4 linked regions of the Homo sapiens genome follow. Changing the gene in region 4 together with the main gene of any one other region gives a genetic interaction. Each region holds a gene or a part of one and is shown on either strand. Other genes may lie near its edges.

Evidence for each region. A genetic interaction does not mean that the proteins touch.
Region 1: changes in TRAPPC13 (region 4) and RAB5C together harm fitness more than expected from each alone (negative genetic interaction), as found in Homo sapiens cells (one large-scale study listed by BioGRID).
Region 2: changes in TRAPPC13 (region 4) and CTBP1 together harm fitness more than expected from each alone (negative genetic interaction), as found in Homo sapiens cells (one large-scale study listed by BioGRID).
Region 3: changes in TRAPPC13 (region 4) and TRAPPC9 together harm fitness more than expected from each alone (negative genetic interaction), as found in Homo sapiens cells (one large-scale study listed by BioGRID).

The regions. Positions count from the first base shown.
Region 1 is NC_000017.11:42,144,990-42,148,664, forward strand, and holds part of RAB5C (ras-related protein Rab-5C), read right to left. Parts: intron 1-3,675. UniProt on the Homo sapiens protein: The small GTPases Rab are key regulators of intracellular membrane trafficking, from the formation of transport vesicles to their fusion with membranes.
Region 2 is NC_000004.12:1,211,131-1,214,805, forward strand, and holds the end of CTBP1 (C-terminal-binding protein 1), read right to left. Parts: intron 3,344-3,675; coding exon 3,213-3,343; intron 2,476-3,212; coding exon 2,348-2,475; intron 1,901-2,347; coding exon 1,783-1,900; intron 1,641-1,782; exon of another isoform or gene 1,545-1,640; intron 1,410-1,544; exon of another isoform or gene 1,297-1,409; coding exon of another isoform or gene 1,294-1,296; coding exon 1,110-1,293; 3' UTR 315-1,109; downstream 1-314. UniProt on the Homo sapiens protein: Corepressor targeting diverse transcription regulators such as GLIS2 or BCL6. Has dehydrogenase activity. Involved in controlling the equilibrium between tubular and stacked structures in the Golgi complex.
Region 3 is NC_000008.11:140,370,745-140,374,419, forward strand, and holds part of TRAPPC9 (trafficking protein particle complex subunit 9), read right to left. Parts: intron 437-3,675; coding exon 220-436; intron 1-219. UniProt on the Homo sapiens protein: Functions as an activator of NF-kappa-B through increased phosphorylation of the IKK complex. May function in neuronal cells differentiation. May play a role in vesicular transport from endoplasmic reticulum to Golgi.
Region 4 is NC_000005.10:65,631,447-65,635,121, reverse strand, and holds part of TRAPPC13 (trafficking protein particle complex subunit 13), read right to left. Parts: intron 1-3,675.

The sequences.
Region 1 (3,675 bases), on a different chromosome or scaffold from region 4:
TCTCTACTAAAAAAAATACAAAAAAATTAGCCGGGTGTGGTGGCGCGCGCCTATAGGCCTGTAGTCCCAGCTACTCGGGAGACTGAGGCAGGAGAAAGGCGTGAACCCGGGAGGCGGAGCTTGCAGTGAGCCGAGATTGCGCCACTGCACTCCAGCCTGGGCGATGGAGTGAGACTCCATCTCAAAAAAAACAGAAAAAGAAAAAATAATTTAGTAACTCATGTAGCTACTCCGCCCTCAACAAGGGGAACATGAACATAAGTCCCTGTTCCTTAGGTGTGGGCTACACAGTGACTTTCTTCCAAAGGGTGCATGCAGCATGGAAAGGGGAAGGGGAGAACAACTTTACAGAGAAGCCTCACACACATCACCTCAGCCAAGTGATCATGGTTGACATCAGTCATGGAAAGGCTTGTGGATTGTATGTACCCTTGACATGATGTGATGAAAATAGCACTTTACCTCTCTGGTCCTCCTTCCCAAAACTTGGCACAGTCTACTTATGAAAAAAACACTGGACACAGCCAGGCGTGTTAGCTCACGCATGTAATCCCACCACTTTGGGAAGCTGAGGTGAGCAGATCGCTTGAGCTCAGGAGTTTGAGACCAGCCTGGACATCATGGTGAAACCTTGTCTCTACAAAAATTAGCCAGGCGTGGTGGTGCATTTCTGTAGTCCCAGCTACTTGGGAGGCTGAGGAGAATGGCTTGAGCCGAGATTGCACCACTGCACTCCAGCCTGGCTGACAGAGCAAGACTCTGTTAAAAAGAGAAAAATACTGGACAAATCCCAGTTGAGAAGAGATTCTCTTTATTTTTTATTATTTTTTTTGAGACGGAGTCTCATTCTGTCTCCAGCCCAGGCTGGAGCACAGTGACACGATGTTGGCTCACTGCAACCTCTGCCTCCTGGTTCAAGCGATTCTTGTGCCTCAGCCTCCTGAGTAGCTGAGATTACAGGTGCGTACCACCATGCCTGGCTAATTTTTGTATTTTTAATAGAGATGAGGCTTCACCATGTTAGCCAGGCTGGTCTCGAACTCCTGACTTCAAGTGATCCACCCACCTCGGCCTCCCAAAGTGCTGGGATTACAGGCGTGAGTCACCGCGCCTGGCCGAGATCCTCTTTAGATGCTTGCCCAGCACTCCTCAAAACTGTCAAGGTCATCAAAAACAATAAAAGTCTGAGAAACTGGCACAGCAAGAGGAGCCTAAAGAGACAATGAATATAGGTAACATGGGATCCTGGAACAGCAAAAGGACATCAGGTAAAAATCTAAGGAAATCTGAATAAAGGATGGACTTTAATGTAAAATACGTACTAACATAAGATGTTAATAACAGGGAAAACTATGTGTGAGGGATTGTGAGAAAACTCTGTACTATCTGCGTAACTTTTCTAAAAGTATTCTGAAAGAATAAGTTTATTAAGCCTCGGCAACATAGGGAGACCCCGTCTCTACAAAAAAATCAAAAATTGCCCAGGCACAGTGGCTCACACCTGTAATCCCAGCACTTTCAGAGGCCAAGGCAGGCAGACCACAAAGTCAAGAGATCAAGACCATCCTGGCCAACATGGCGAAACCCCGTCTCTACTAAAAATATAAAAATTAGCTGGGCATGGTGGCGTACGCCTGTAGTCCCAGCTACTCGGGAGGCTGAGGCAGGAGAATCACTTGAACCCAGGAGACGGAGGTTGCAGTGAGCCAAGATGGCATCACTGCACTCCAGCCTGGGAAACAGAGCAAGACTCCATTTCAAAAGAAAAAAAAAAAAGGAGGCCAAGGTAGGCGGATCACGAGGTCAGGAGATGGAGACCATCCTGGTTAACATGGTGAAACTCTGCCTCTACTAAAAGTACAAAAAATTAGCCAAGCGTGGTGGCAGGAGCCTGTAGTCCCAGCTACTCGAGAGGCTGAGGCAGGAGAATGGCATGAACCCGGGAGCTTGCAGTGAGCCGAGATCGTACCACTGCACTCCAGCCTGGGCGACAAGGCAAGACTTCGTCAAGAAAGAAAGAAAGAAAGACAGAAAGAAAGACAGAAAGACAGAAAGAAAGACAGAAAAAGAAAGAAAGAAAGAAAAAGAAAGAAAGAAAGAAAGAAAGAAGGAAAGACAGAAAGAAAGAAAGAAACAGAAAGAAAGAAAGAAAGAAAGAGAGAGAGAGAGAGAGAGAGAGAGAAAGAAAGAAAGACCAGCCTCAAGGTGAGCAGAGGATATCCAAGTACTGCAGGCACAGGACCAGGGAATGTTAAAGACCCCATCTGTGGAATACACATGTGAGGGCTGCTCATACCACTGGTCTGAACAGCTGCTGCCACCACTTTTTTAAGCCACCTTCACTCAGGAACGAGCCTTGTGCAGACATACAGAACAGTATCCACAGGCAGAGTCAAATTTGCTTCCACTGATCCTTGCTAAGTACTGGTCTGGGGTCGGTGCTGCCTCACCACACACAACTGCAGAAGCACGGTCGTTCTGTCCTGCCATCAGATACACACACGGCAGAAGCCAGTCAGCCGGACTGTGGCTAGTCAGGGCCGCGCCCTCATTGTCCCATTAAACCCTTCACCAGAAATGGAGATTTGGAGAGTCTTAACTTCTGGAAACTGAGTTTGTGACTTGCTTCCCATCATCCGTACTGTAACATTGATCCTATTGACCTGTTTGCTCTCCCATTTGTCTGTGAGCAACTTTCTGGGGGATGGACCAAAGATATGGCTCAAGCTGTGGGATCAGATGGATTTAAGTTTGAATCATAGGTTCACGACATCCAAAGTGTGTGAAGAAAGGAAGGGAAGTGTGTGTTAAAAGAAGTGGGCGAGGGCCAGGCATGGTGGCTTACACCTGTAATCCCAGCACTTTGGGAGGCCGAGGCGGGTGGATCACCTGAGGTTGGGAGTTCGAGACCAGCCTGACCAACATGGAGAAACCCCATCTCTAATAAAAATACAAAAAATTAGCCGGCCGTGGTGGCACATGCCTGTAATCCCTGCTACTTGGGAAGCTGAGGCAGGAGAATCTCTTTAACTCGGGAGGCGGAGGTTGTGGTGAGCTGAGATTGTGCCATTGCACTCTAGCCTGGGCAACAAGAGCAAAACTCTGTCTCAAAAACAAACAAAAAAAAAGAAGTGGGCAAGGCTGGGCACAGTGGCTCATGCCTGTAGTCCCAGCACTGGGAGGCTGAGGCAGGCAGATCATGAGGTCAGGAGTTTGAGATCAGCCTGGCCAACATGGTGAAATCCGTCTCTACTAAAAATACAAAACTAGATGGGCGTGGTGGTACACACCTGTAATCCCAGGTACTAGGGAGGCTGAAGCAGGAGAATCACTTGAACCCAGGAGGCGGAGGTTACAGTGAGCAAGATCGTACCATTGCACTCCAGCCTGGGTGAGAGGTCAAGACTCCATCTCAAAAAAAAAAAAAAAAAAAAAAAGAAGTGGGCAGGTGTTTGGTGTTTGCTTTAAGGGCAGGTTTGAATGTCTGCCCTCTCCTTTAACAACTTCAGTAGGGAGCCTACTATGCTGAGTGCCATGCCAGGTCCTAAACACACAAAGATCAAACAGGACCCGATCTGTGCCCCTAAAGGGCTCACCCACCAGAGAATGAGGCAAATAAGGAACAATGAGATAGCAGTTGAGAAGACAGCCCATGTAGGAGACAAGCCCTCAGCC
Region 2 (3,675 bases), on a different chromosome or scaffold from region 4:
GGCAGGACCTCAGCCAGTCACACCATCATCCACACAACGGCCCGGCTGGCACACTGCTTCCCTCCCACTGGGGCACTGCGGGCAGGCCGCCTCCAAGCCAGGACCCTACAGCGTCCCACAGACCCAGTGGGCAGAGGGACAGGCCCGGTACACACAGAGACCACTGCCCAACCTGCCACTGCACTGTCTCTGGGTCTCTCTTAGGCCGCCCACTTCAGAGAGGCTGAGCTGAGCCGTGGAGGTCACCAGAGCCAGGACTGAGGCTCACCCGTGTCCTCATGAGAGAAAGTCACCAGAATAGATGCTGGGCACGCTGGCTCTTTCCAGGATTTTTATTTCTTTAAAATAATTCATACAAATGGTTACAGTCACAAACATGATTTTAACCAAAATATTGCTAGCCTACCACATCAGCAGGACGGCACTGGTGCAGGCGGGGACGCTGCCACCCTCCACGTCCCCAGGACAGACGTCGATGGGCAGCGGGCACGCTGGGCACCGCCCAAGCTTTTCCTTTTGGAGCTGCTTCGTGATGCCGTCTTCATTTGGAACAAGGGGGGGTTCATGCCAAAATTAGGAAAAACAGCCTTTGTTTTGTTTTTCTAAATTATTCTAAAAATAAGACAAGCAGGTAGAAAAAACAATGCACTGTGTGGCATAAAAAGAAAAACGGGAAGGATTCATTGTCCTGAGAAGTTTGCCAACTGCCTCATTCTGGGGCACGTTCCAACATACAAAAAAAAAAAAAACAAAAAAAAAAACCTCAAATTGACTTCCAAATGCTCCTTCAGGTTTTCTTTTTGTTGACAGCTAAGCAAACAGATCCTTTGTAATGTTCTAAAAACTGTACACAGACAAGAACGTTCATGGGAGAATAACTACTGACTTCTTCTGCTTAACGAGGAACGCGAAGGACACAGGGCAGAGCGCCCACAGGACGGACGACGACAAGCGACACGAGGCCCAGCGCTGCCCCCTCCCGCCTCCTGACAGCCCGGACCAGTCTCTGCAGTGCCAGGGCCACCACACAGATGCCTCCTCCACACACTCTGGTCCGAGGGTTTCCGGGCCCTCTGCCCAGGCGCCGAGGCTGGAGAGCTCCTCCCGGGCTACAACTGGTCACTGGCGTGGTCTCTATCCGCCTCGGGCTTGACGGTTTGGCCAGGAGAAGGGGCGTGGGGCGGGTGGGCCACAGGGGGCAGGCCGTGGGACAGGGACATGGCGCTGGGGACGATACCTTCCACAGCAGCTGGGATGCCAGTGGGGGCCACGCCCACCACGCCCGGAGGGTACCTGCTGGGAGAGGGTCCATCCGTGAGGCCCACCTGTAGGCGGCCTGGCCAGGCCCCACCTGCCCTCCTAGCATCGGCAGCACCGAGGGGGCCTCTCCAGGAGGACCAGCAGTCAGGGTAAGGATCCCGGCCTTTACACGGATGTTCCTGCCTATGGCAGCTACTTCTCAGGGCTGGGGAGGGGAGCCCTGGTGTCTCCAGGTGACTTGAACATGAGGTCTTCGCCTCACCCAAAGCCCCCTCCTCCCACAGGCCCCGTGCCCATGGCACTCCTGTGTCCACTGAGCCCTGAAGGCCACCCCAGCCCAGGCTCCTTCCAAGAGGCCCTGGTTCTCATGGGCCTTTCAGGTGAGGTTGGCCTTACCAATTCTACCCAGATCCTCCAGGTCAGTCAGTGGAGACGCCGCCCCTCCCACCAGGGGCTGTGCTGGGATCCAGGGGAAGCCTGGGGCCCTCCTGGAGGCTGTTCTGGGCCAGCGGGCCTGCTCACCTATAGGCAGCCCCATTGAGCTCAGGGTGCACGACGGCGGGGTCCATGCTGGCCCAGTGGGTGGCGGCTGTCAGATGGTCCTTGTTGACACAGTTCTTCAGGCTGTCTGGGATCCGGCCTGGGAGATGCAGGAGGAAGGAACAGCTGTGGCTCTGAGGGGGCCCCAGGAGCGTGGCCCACTGGGTTGAAGACACGGGCAGCAGGATTCTTGGCAGTGTGCTCCTCCCTCTCAGCCCCGGGGCTCCCAAGGCACGGCAGGGTCCTGTCTCTCTGGGCACTGGCACCCTTGCAGCGTGGGGACCCCCAGCCCAGAGCACGTGCCCAGCTTGCTGAGGGACCTGTCTGCTCAGCCCAGCAACTTCCCAGCAGGTCCTGTGTGTAAGACACGACGCCAGGGCTCAACTTGACTTTGGCCTTAGAGGTCCCTGCTGGGGGTGCAGTGAGAGCACCACGGGCCCTGAGCTGGCAGAACATGGGCCTGGCTGCCAGGCGGATGCGAGCCCATGAGCATCTGGGGCTGGCAGGAAGGGACCCCCAGGCCTGACCGAGCGGCCCCCACGCCCACCTGTGATGGCTCTGCGGATCTCCCGTGCCGCCTCCTCTCGCATCTCGATGGATGCCTGCTCGCTGTACCATGCAGCATGGGGGGTGCAGATGAGGTTGGGTGCATCCTTCAGAGGGCCCTGGCTAAAGCTGGGAACAGCACAGGCATGGTCAGTGCAGCCTGAGTGCTGTGGCTGGGTACGGAGGGGAGGTGGCTGGGCACTGGAACCCCCTGTGGGGGGCCCTGCCTGGGAACCACAGACCCCACGGCCCTGCTCTGCTCGGCAGGCTGGCTGAGCTCAAGAGCACAGCCCCGGGACCATCAGACACACCAGGGGCTCCTGACAGCGGCGGGTGTGGGAGCCCAAGGGATTTAATCTCCAAGTCCCTCGTGGGAGGAGCCCTGATGGGGGGACATGCTGCCTGGCCCCTTCCAGCCAAAGGGTCTGTAGCCCCAGGAGCTGCAGGCTGATACTGCCCCTGTGGGGGTGTCTCCTCTTGCGGCTGAACATCCAACCCAGGGCTGCCTGGGGTCCCAAGGTGCTGTAGGGGCTGCAGGTCTGGACGGGATGCCATGACTCCATGGCCAGGGCCCATGGGGACCACTCACAGACACTGGGGCCTCACTCTCTCCTGGTTGGTCAGGAGCCCTGCCCAAAGAAGGGCTGAGGAGGTTGAGCAGCCCCTCACAGGACCGAGGCAAGGCAGGCCTAGAGCCCGTGGCTCCATCCTCACCCCGCAGCGGGCGGCAAACTCCCCCACTGCTGGCCAGCGAGAGGCCTGAGTACAGGCAAGTGTCCGGCCTGGCAGAGGCGCCGTCTGGAGGTCAAGGCCGGCAGGATGGTGGACAGGGAAGAGCAGGGGGGCGGCACTGGCCGTGGGGGCACCTGAAGGGTTCCGACTCGTGCACATCCAGGGCCGCGCCGCGGATCCGGCCCTCCTTCAGGGCCTGGGCCAGCGCCTTCTCATCCACCAGGCCACCCCGGGCTGTGTTCACCAGGAAGGCCCCTTGTCTCATCTAGAAGACATAAGGACAGGCCAGGCCCAGTCAGGGATCCGCACAGGGCGGGCAGCCAGGGAAGCAAGGTGGTCACGCACGCCGTTGGGAAGGCCCAGCTCCCTAGCCCCTTCCCAGCCCCACCCTGGGCTCACCACGGCGCTAGGACTGAAGGCCTCGGGCGTGCTGCACCGCGGCCCTGACAGGCTGGCTGAGGATCTGCCCTGTATGGACCTGCACGGCCCCACAGCTCCTAGAGAGCTCCACCCTCCTGCCCAAGCCCTGAGCTGAGGACTGGGCGGGGGCTCCTGGCTTGGTCCCCCTGTGGTACCCCTTTTCTGGGTCCCCTCCAG
Region 3 (3,675 bases), on a different chromosome or scaffold from region 4:
CCACTGATAAAGATTCAAGAATCCGAGCCCCAAGGCAAAGCACCAGTACTTTTTCCTATAATCGGATTACAGCAGGCACCCAACTCCAGGGCAGGGATCTAGTCATTCTGGAGCCACCAGCACCAACCACGATGTCTGCCACTCAGGGCAGGGGCTGAAACAGCATGTGACCATCAGACAGAAAGCAACACCTTAGCGCCAGCAAGGGGACTCCAGTACCTCTGCTGAAATCTTTGGGATCCAGCGACAGACTGTAGCCGGGCAGCGTTTCCAGGAGGAGTTTGTAGCAGGCCCTCCACCCAGGCTCCGCGATGCTTGGGGCCACGCACTGCATGGCGGCCACGCGCTTGAAGAACGCAGACTTGCGATGGAAGCCGATCAGCTCATAGAGCTCGGAGAGGATGCTGTAGCGCTGAATTTTCTCTTCCTCAGAAAGCTGAAGCACAGAGAGAAAGTAAAAAGCTTTTGAAAGAAACGTATAAGTGAAAAAAGAAGCACACATTAAAAATGTCTCTTCATAAAACAAAGACCTGAGGAGAATCGAGGAGAATCAAGGAGAGGGAAAGCCTGGTGAGCAGCGCATGGCGCAGGCCCCAGGTGGCTTCAGACCTTCCCCAGCCACAGCTGCAGGTGCAGCCCATCTTCCTGCTGATAAAGCCCAGATTCTCTGCTACAAAGGTACCTGCTACAAATCTGAGACCTCTACTTTAAGTTCCTTCACAAAAGAAAAGAAAAGGAACAAGAGTTCATCTACACAACAGGATTTTATCAAGGTCTCTCATCAAACACAAAAATTCTTAAAACACAAGAAGACACAGAATCATGTAACTGGGTAATGAATTATTAACAATACCACTGATATCAGACTTAAGACTTCAGGGTTTACAAAAGTTTTCTTTCATCCAAGACCCAACTGAATCCTCCCAACAACCCTGTAGTGTAGCAATCATAACTTCTGTTTCTTTTCTTTTTTTTTTGAGACGGAGTCTCACTCTGTCACTCAGGCTGGAGTGCAGTGGTACGATCTTGGCTCACTGCAACCTCCACCTCCCGGGTTCAAGAGATTCTCCTGCCTCATCCTCCAGTGTAGCTGAGATTACAAGCACCCACCCCCATGCTGGCTAATTTTTGTACTTTCAGTAGAGACGGGATTTCACCATGTTAACCAGGCTGGTCTCGAACTCCTGACCTCAGGTGATCTGCCTGCCTCAGTCTCCCAAAGTGCTGGGATTACAGGTGTGAGCCACCACGCCCAGCCAACAACTTCTGTTTCTTCAGCACCTACTGTATGGCAGCAGACTTAACGTACCTGATTTACTCAATACAAGCATCCTGTGAGCTGGCAAATAAGGACATTAACAGCTCAGGGACACATTAATCACCTGTGCAAAATCACACAGCCAAGAAGTATCAGGGACAAGACCTGACTCTGGGCCTGGGCCCTGCCCACTGCACAGCGCCTTCAGAGAAGAAGGAAGGCAGAGCCCACTCTGCTGCTCCAGGAGCACTGTTAAGGAAGCGCTTCTCTCCCTCCTCTGCCCTGGACGATGAATGTTTCCCTGATGTTTCTGTGAGTACAGAGCCTTAGCTTGAACGCCCTTCCAACTTGGGCCTCCAAACCCTCCCTCCATCCCCTCTCCTCCGCGCTCACTGCCATGGCCTCGATGGGGCCCTCGTCAGCCCTCATCTGGAAGAGGAATCGGCATTGTCTTCCTACCACCTCTCGACCTTCCTTCACCTGTCCACACACCCCTGCCAGACTTAGGTTCCTGAGACATGGCTCAGAGCCCATCACCCGAGCCACGGTTTGAATGTTTGTGCCTCCCCAAAATTCACATGTTGAAAGCCTAGCCCCCAAGGTGATGGAATTAGGAGGTGGGGACTTTAAAAAGTGATTGGGTCAGGGGGTGAAGCACTCACAAATGGAATTAGTGCCCTTATAAGAAGAGACCCTAAAGAGCTAGCTCACCTGTTGCACCATGTGAGAACACAGAGAAAAGACGGCGGTCTATGAACAAGCAAGTGGGCCCTCCCCAGACACCAAACATGCTGGCACCTGGATCATGGACTTCTAGCCTCTAGAACTGTGCACAATACATTTCTATTGTTTATCAGCCACCCAGTCTGTGGCATTTTGTGACAGCAGCCTCACCGGACTAAGACAATCCCCATCTTGAAACCACTAGACCCCTTCAGGACTGTAAAATGGAGCCCAAATGCCTTCACGGGCATGCCAGGCCCTCCTCAGCCCCAACCTGCTCTGGAAATTCGAGGCCCCACTGCCTACCTATGACCTCACCAGACTGAACAACTTTAACTCATTTGTTTTCTCATTCTGTCAACACATATTTACTGAACCCCTACTCTGGTGCCAGCCACTCTTGTGGCAGAGGATACAGCAGTGAGCAAAACAAGCTAAGACTCCTACCCCTGGGGGCCTCCATGCTAATGACAGGCTAGTCCCCTGGCTTAGAATCAGTGGGGAGGATGACAATAAATCAATGAAAAAATAAACAAAATAGCTGCTCTAAGTCCAATGAAATACTCTTTGACATAGAATCATGGGTGGAAGCGTATGAGGCAGGCTGTACTAGGTGACGCCGCCGGGGCACACAGGCTCTCTGCTCCTGCAATGCCTCCACAGCCACATCTGGCTCTCCCTTTGGACACTCGGTTCCAATGCCACCCTCTCCAAGAAGCTGGTCCTCATGCCCTTCAGCGGGAAGCTGCTGCTTCTTTCCCTAAATTCTCCTAACCATGCTGGACTCCATAATGTCCTTTCTCTGTGTCTCCCACACAATTTACCTACATATCGGATCTCTGCCAGCCCCACTTTTCCTACAGTGAAAGGTCATGCCGACGCCGACGATGTGTGAGAATCCCTGTTGCTCCACCTGCTCACCAGCATATGAGGATATCACCTGCTCACCAGCATATGAGGATATCACCTGCTCACCAGCATATGAGGATATCAGTCTTTTTTATTTTAGACGTTGTGGTGGCTTTAACTTCCATTTCCCTGAAAACTAATGATGTTGAACCTTTTTCATATGATCACTGGCCACTGGTATATCTTCCTTTGTGAAGCGCTTGTTCAAATCTTCTGACAGTTTTTAAAATTAGATCGTTTGTTTTATTACTGAGTCGTACGAGTTCTGTATATATTCTGAATGCAAGTCCTTAGTTATATGTGTTTTGCAAATATTTCCTCCCGGTCTGTTGCCGATTTATTTCCCTAAGGGAGTGTTCATAAGCAAAAGCATTTCTCTGTGATGTAGCTCAATCTATCAGCTTTTTCTTCTATGGTTAGTGCCTTCTATGTCCTCATCTGAGAAAAATCTTTGCCCGAGGTCACAAAGATATCCTATGTTTTCATCTAGAAGTTGTTGTCTAGGTCTATGGTCCGTGAATATTCAAATTTGAGTAGGACATGGCCTGTCCCTTTCCAGGAGTGTGCAGTACAGCAGCGAACAGAAGCCCCAGTGCTGGAGGACAGCAGCCAGGGACGGGGTGGAAGAGGACTGTAAAGAGGAGGCAGGGGTTGGCCGGGCGCAGTGGCGCACACCTGTAATCCCAGCACTTTGGGAGGCCGAGGCAGGCAGATCACCTGAGGTTGGGAGTTCGAGACCAGCCTGACCAACATGGAGAAACCCCGTCTCTACTAAAAAATACAAA
Region 4 (3,675 bases):
GTAATGTTACAAAATAAGCACCATTTATTTACAACCTATGAATTATAAAAATTAAATGTAAATACAATATGCATTCATTATAGAAAAACTGGAAAATATAATTTTTAAAGCTTAAAGAGTATTAGGAGCATAAGGCTTTAAAAAAATTCTAAGTGATTTCACCATAAACAATATCAACAAAATATTAACTTTGGAAACTCAGTAAGTGTTTTTTGTTTTTTTTTTGAGACAGGCTTACTCTGTCACCCAGGCTGGAGTGTAGTGGTGCGATCTCGGCTCACTGCAACCTCTATCTCCCAGGTTCAAGAGATTCTCCTGCCTCAGCCTCCTGAGTAGTTGGGATTACAGGAATGCACCACCATGCCTGGTTATTTTTTTTTTTTTTGTATTTTTAGTAGAGACGGGGTTTCACCATGTTGGCCAGGCTGGTCCCTAACTCCTGACCTCGAGTGATCTGCCTACCTTGGCCTCCCAAAGTGCTGGGATTACAGGCATGAGCCACCATGCCCGGCCAAGTGTTTCTTCAAGTAATATTAATTCTGTGTAGAAATTACAAAAATGTCAGAAAACATATACGTTTATATAATTCCAATCAAAAGTAAGATATTATTTTTGGAACATGACAGAATGTGTCTAAAGTTTATTTAGAGAAACAAATAAATGAAAATAAGCTAAGGAAATTAACGGAGAAAAAAGAGGAAGAACTGAATTTACTACATATTATAACATATTTAAGTCCATAATCAACTAATTGACTTATTAATATAAGACCATACCGATATATTAGTTTTTCAAAAAAAAGATAGGATATACTTATATAAAGAAATTGCTGGGAGTGGCCAGGCATGGTGGCTCACGCCTGTAATCCCAGCACTTTGGGAGGCCAAGGCGGGCGGATCACGAGGTCAAGAGATTGAGACTATCCTGGCTAACACGGTGAAACCCCGTCTCTACTAAAAATACAAAAAATTAGCTGGGCGTGGTGGCGGGTGCCTGTAGTCCCAGTTACTCGGCAGGCTGAGGCAGGAGAATGGCATGAAGCCGGGAGGCGGAGGTTGCAGTGAGCCGAGATTGCGGCACTGTACTCCAGCCTGGGCGACAGAGCAAGACTCCGTCTCAAAAAAAAAAAAAAAAAAAAAAAAAACGCTGGGAGAGATATTTTAAAAAACAACCTCTTGACAAAAAAAAATCAATTAAAGGATTAGAAGTTAAAAAAATCAATTAGCAAAAGGATTATTCATTATAAGGTGCAAAGACATGGTTAGCTATCTGGGAAAATAAAATTTAACTAAAAAATTCACTTTAAATATAAATAGACAAAAATTAAGCCACAGAAAAGTAAAAAAAAAGAAATTGAATATTTATTATAGTCTAATGAGTAAACACTCTATAATTTTTTTAAAAATCTTTTTCAGTTACTTCTAAAGACTGTCGTTTGACCACATCAAAATAAAAACAAAAACATAAAATTAAAAAATCATAAAAACTTGTAAAATTTTTCAGAAAATGAATCACAGAGGGCTAGTTCATTATTAAAAGTATTCCTTCAAATCTGGCTGGGCACAGTGGCTCATGCCTGTAATCCCAGCACTTTGGGAGGCCGAGGCGGGCGGATCACGAGGTCAGGAGATCGAGACCACGGTGAAACTCCGTCTCTACTAAAAATAAAAAAAATTAGCCTAGCATGGTGGCGGGCGCCTGTAGTCCCAGCTACTCGCAGAGGCTGAGGCAGGAGAATGGCGTGAACCCGGGAGGCGGAGCTTGCAGTGAGCTGAGATCGCCCACTGCACTCCAGCCTGGGCAACAGAGCAAGACCCCGCCTCAAAAAAAAAAAAATTCCTTCAAATCAAAGCCAAAATACTATAAAGACTATAGACCTACATGGTCAATTCAGAATATAAGTAATGTTCTAGCATATGTAAAAATGTACCACCCAACTACTAATTAACCAACTATGGCATTCATATCAAATTTAGTGGCTTTCTCATTCTGGTTTCAGCTTAAATGTCATCTTTTTCAGAAAAAAAGTAACAGGTCATTCTGTTTCACTCATGGTACCTTGTATTTATCATGCAGTATATTTATTTGTTTATAGCACTCCTTTCCAAACTCCATGAGGTCTAGGCTCTTATGTACTACGTTCAGTTTTGTAGCATCCATATTTGGTGTAAGTTCTGCTATTCAGATCTTCCCTGAATAAAATAATTAGCACTTCATGAAAGTCCCTAAATAACTGACATTATTTTGAAAGTGTAAGTTTCAGAAACTGAAGGCAATTAAAAACCTGCTATATTAAGCAGCTGGCTTTTGAAATAGTCAACAAATGCTACCCTTAAAATTTCTGAAGTTACTCTGTATAGCTAGCATTTACTGAGCATTTACTAGCGCCAGGCATTATGCTAAATATTTTACAAGCTGAACACATTTAATTCTCATGAGTACTCTCTAAGTTGGTATTACATTAACCCCAATATACAGATAGGGCATTGACAATACCTGCAGAGGGTAATTTGCATACAAAGGATTATATTAGTAGATAAGTGGTAGAATCTAGATTTGAACCCTGGTGATTTCACTCTGTTGAAAAATAATTCTCTATAATAATTATTAATTATAAGCCTGGAGCCATAAACCTGGAATGTCATGCCTTACCAGAAATACCCCATGGGAATTCAAAGTAGGAATGTATTCCAAAGAGTATTAATCAGCTACAGATGAATATGGGGAGGCGTTTCCAACCTTCACTCTTATTTTTAACTACGAAAACAGAGAAAAAGGTGCCCTGAAAACAGATAAAAAGGTGCCCTGAAAGTGATACACAGGAGGCAGTTTCTCCCAATTTAAACAGCTAAAATCACTAGACAGGGTCTCATTTTGTTACCCAGGTTGGACTACAGTGGCACGATCATGGCTGACTGCAGCCTTGACCTCCTGAGCTCAAGTGAACCTCCTGCCTCAGACCCACCCCCTACCCCCGCCCACCAAGAGGCTGCGACTACTGTCGCATGCCACCATGCCCGGTTAATTTTTGTAGTTTTTGTAGAGACGGAGTTTCACCATGTTGCCCAGGCTGGTAAGTTCACTTTTAGTACCAGTTGGTGTTTTCTATTTCTTCCCTATTATTTTTTTCATTTCATTAGAAAACAAATCTGAATAAAGAGAAAATACAGTCTCAAGGGAATCCTGAAACATTCCTTTTTTTTTTTTCTTAGTGTCCTGGAGTTCACCCAAACATGTAGCTAACATATTTGCTTATTATAGGTTCCAATTTCTATTATAAAGAAAAGTCCTATAAAGCTTAGTTTTTCATGATTCCTGTGGTTTAGCAGGGGATGAGATGGTGGGTAAAAAATGATCCTCCATTAAAAATAAAGTGATCCCAACTTGGTATTAAAAGCAACTTTTTTCTTCATATTTTCAGATTATGGCCTTTGCAGCAACGTAGATGCAACTGGAGGCCATTATCCTAAGCCAATTTATGCAGGAACAGAAAATCAAATACCACATATTCTCATAAGTGAGAGATAAACAATGAGTATACATGGACACAAAAAACAGAACAATAGACACTGAGGCCTATTTGAGGGTAGAAGGTGGCAGGGGGTGAGGACTAAAAAACTACCTATTGGGTATTATCCTGATTACATGGGTGACAAAACTATTTGTACACCAAAC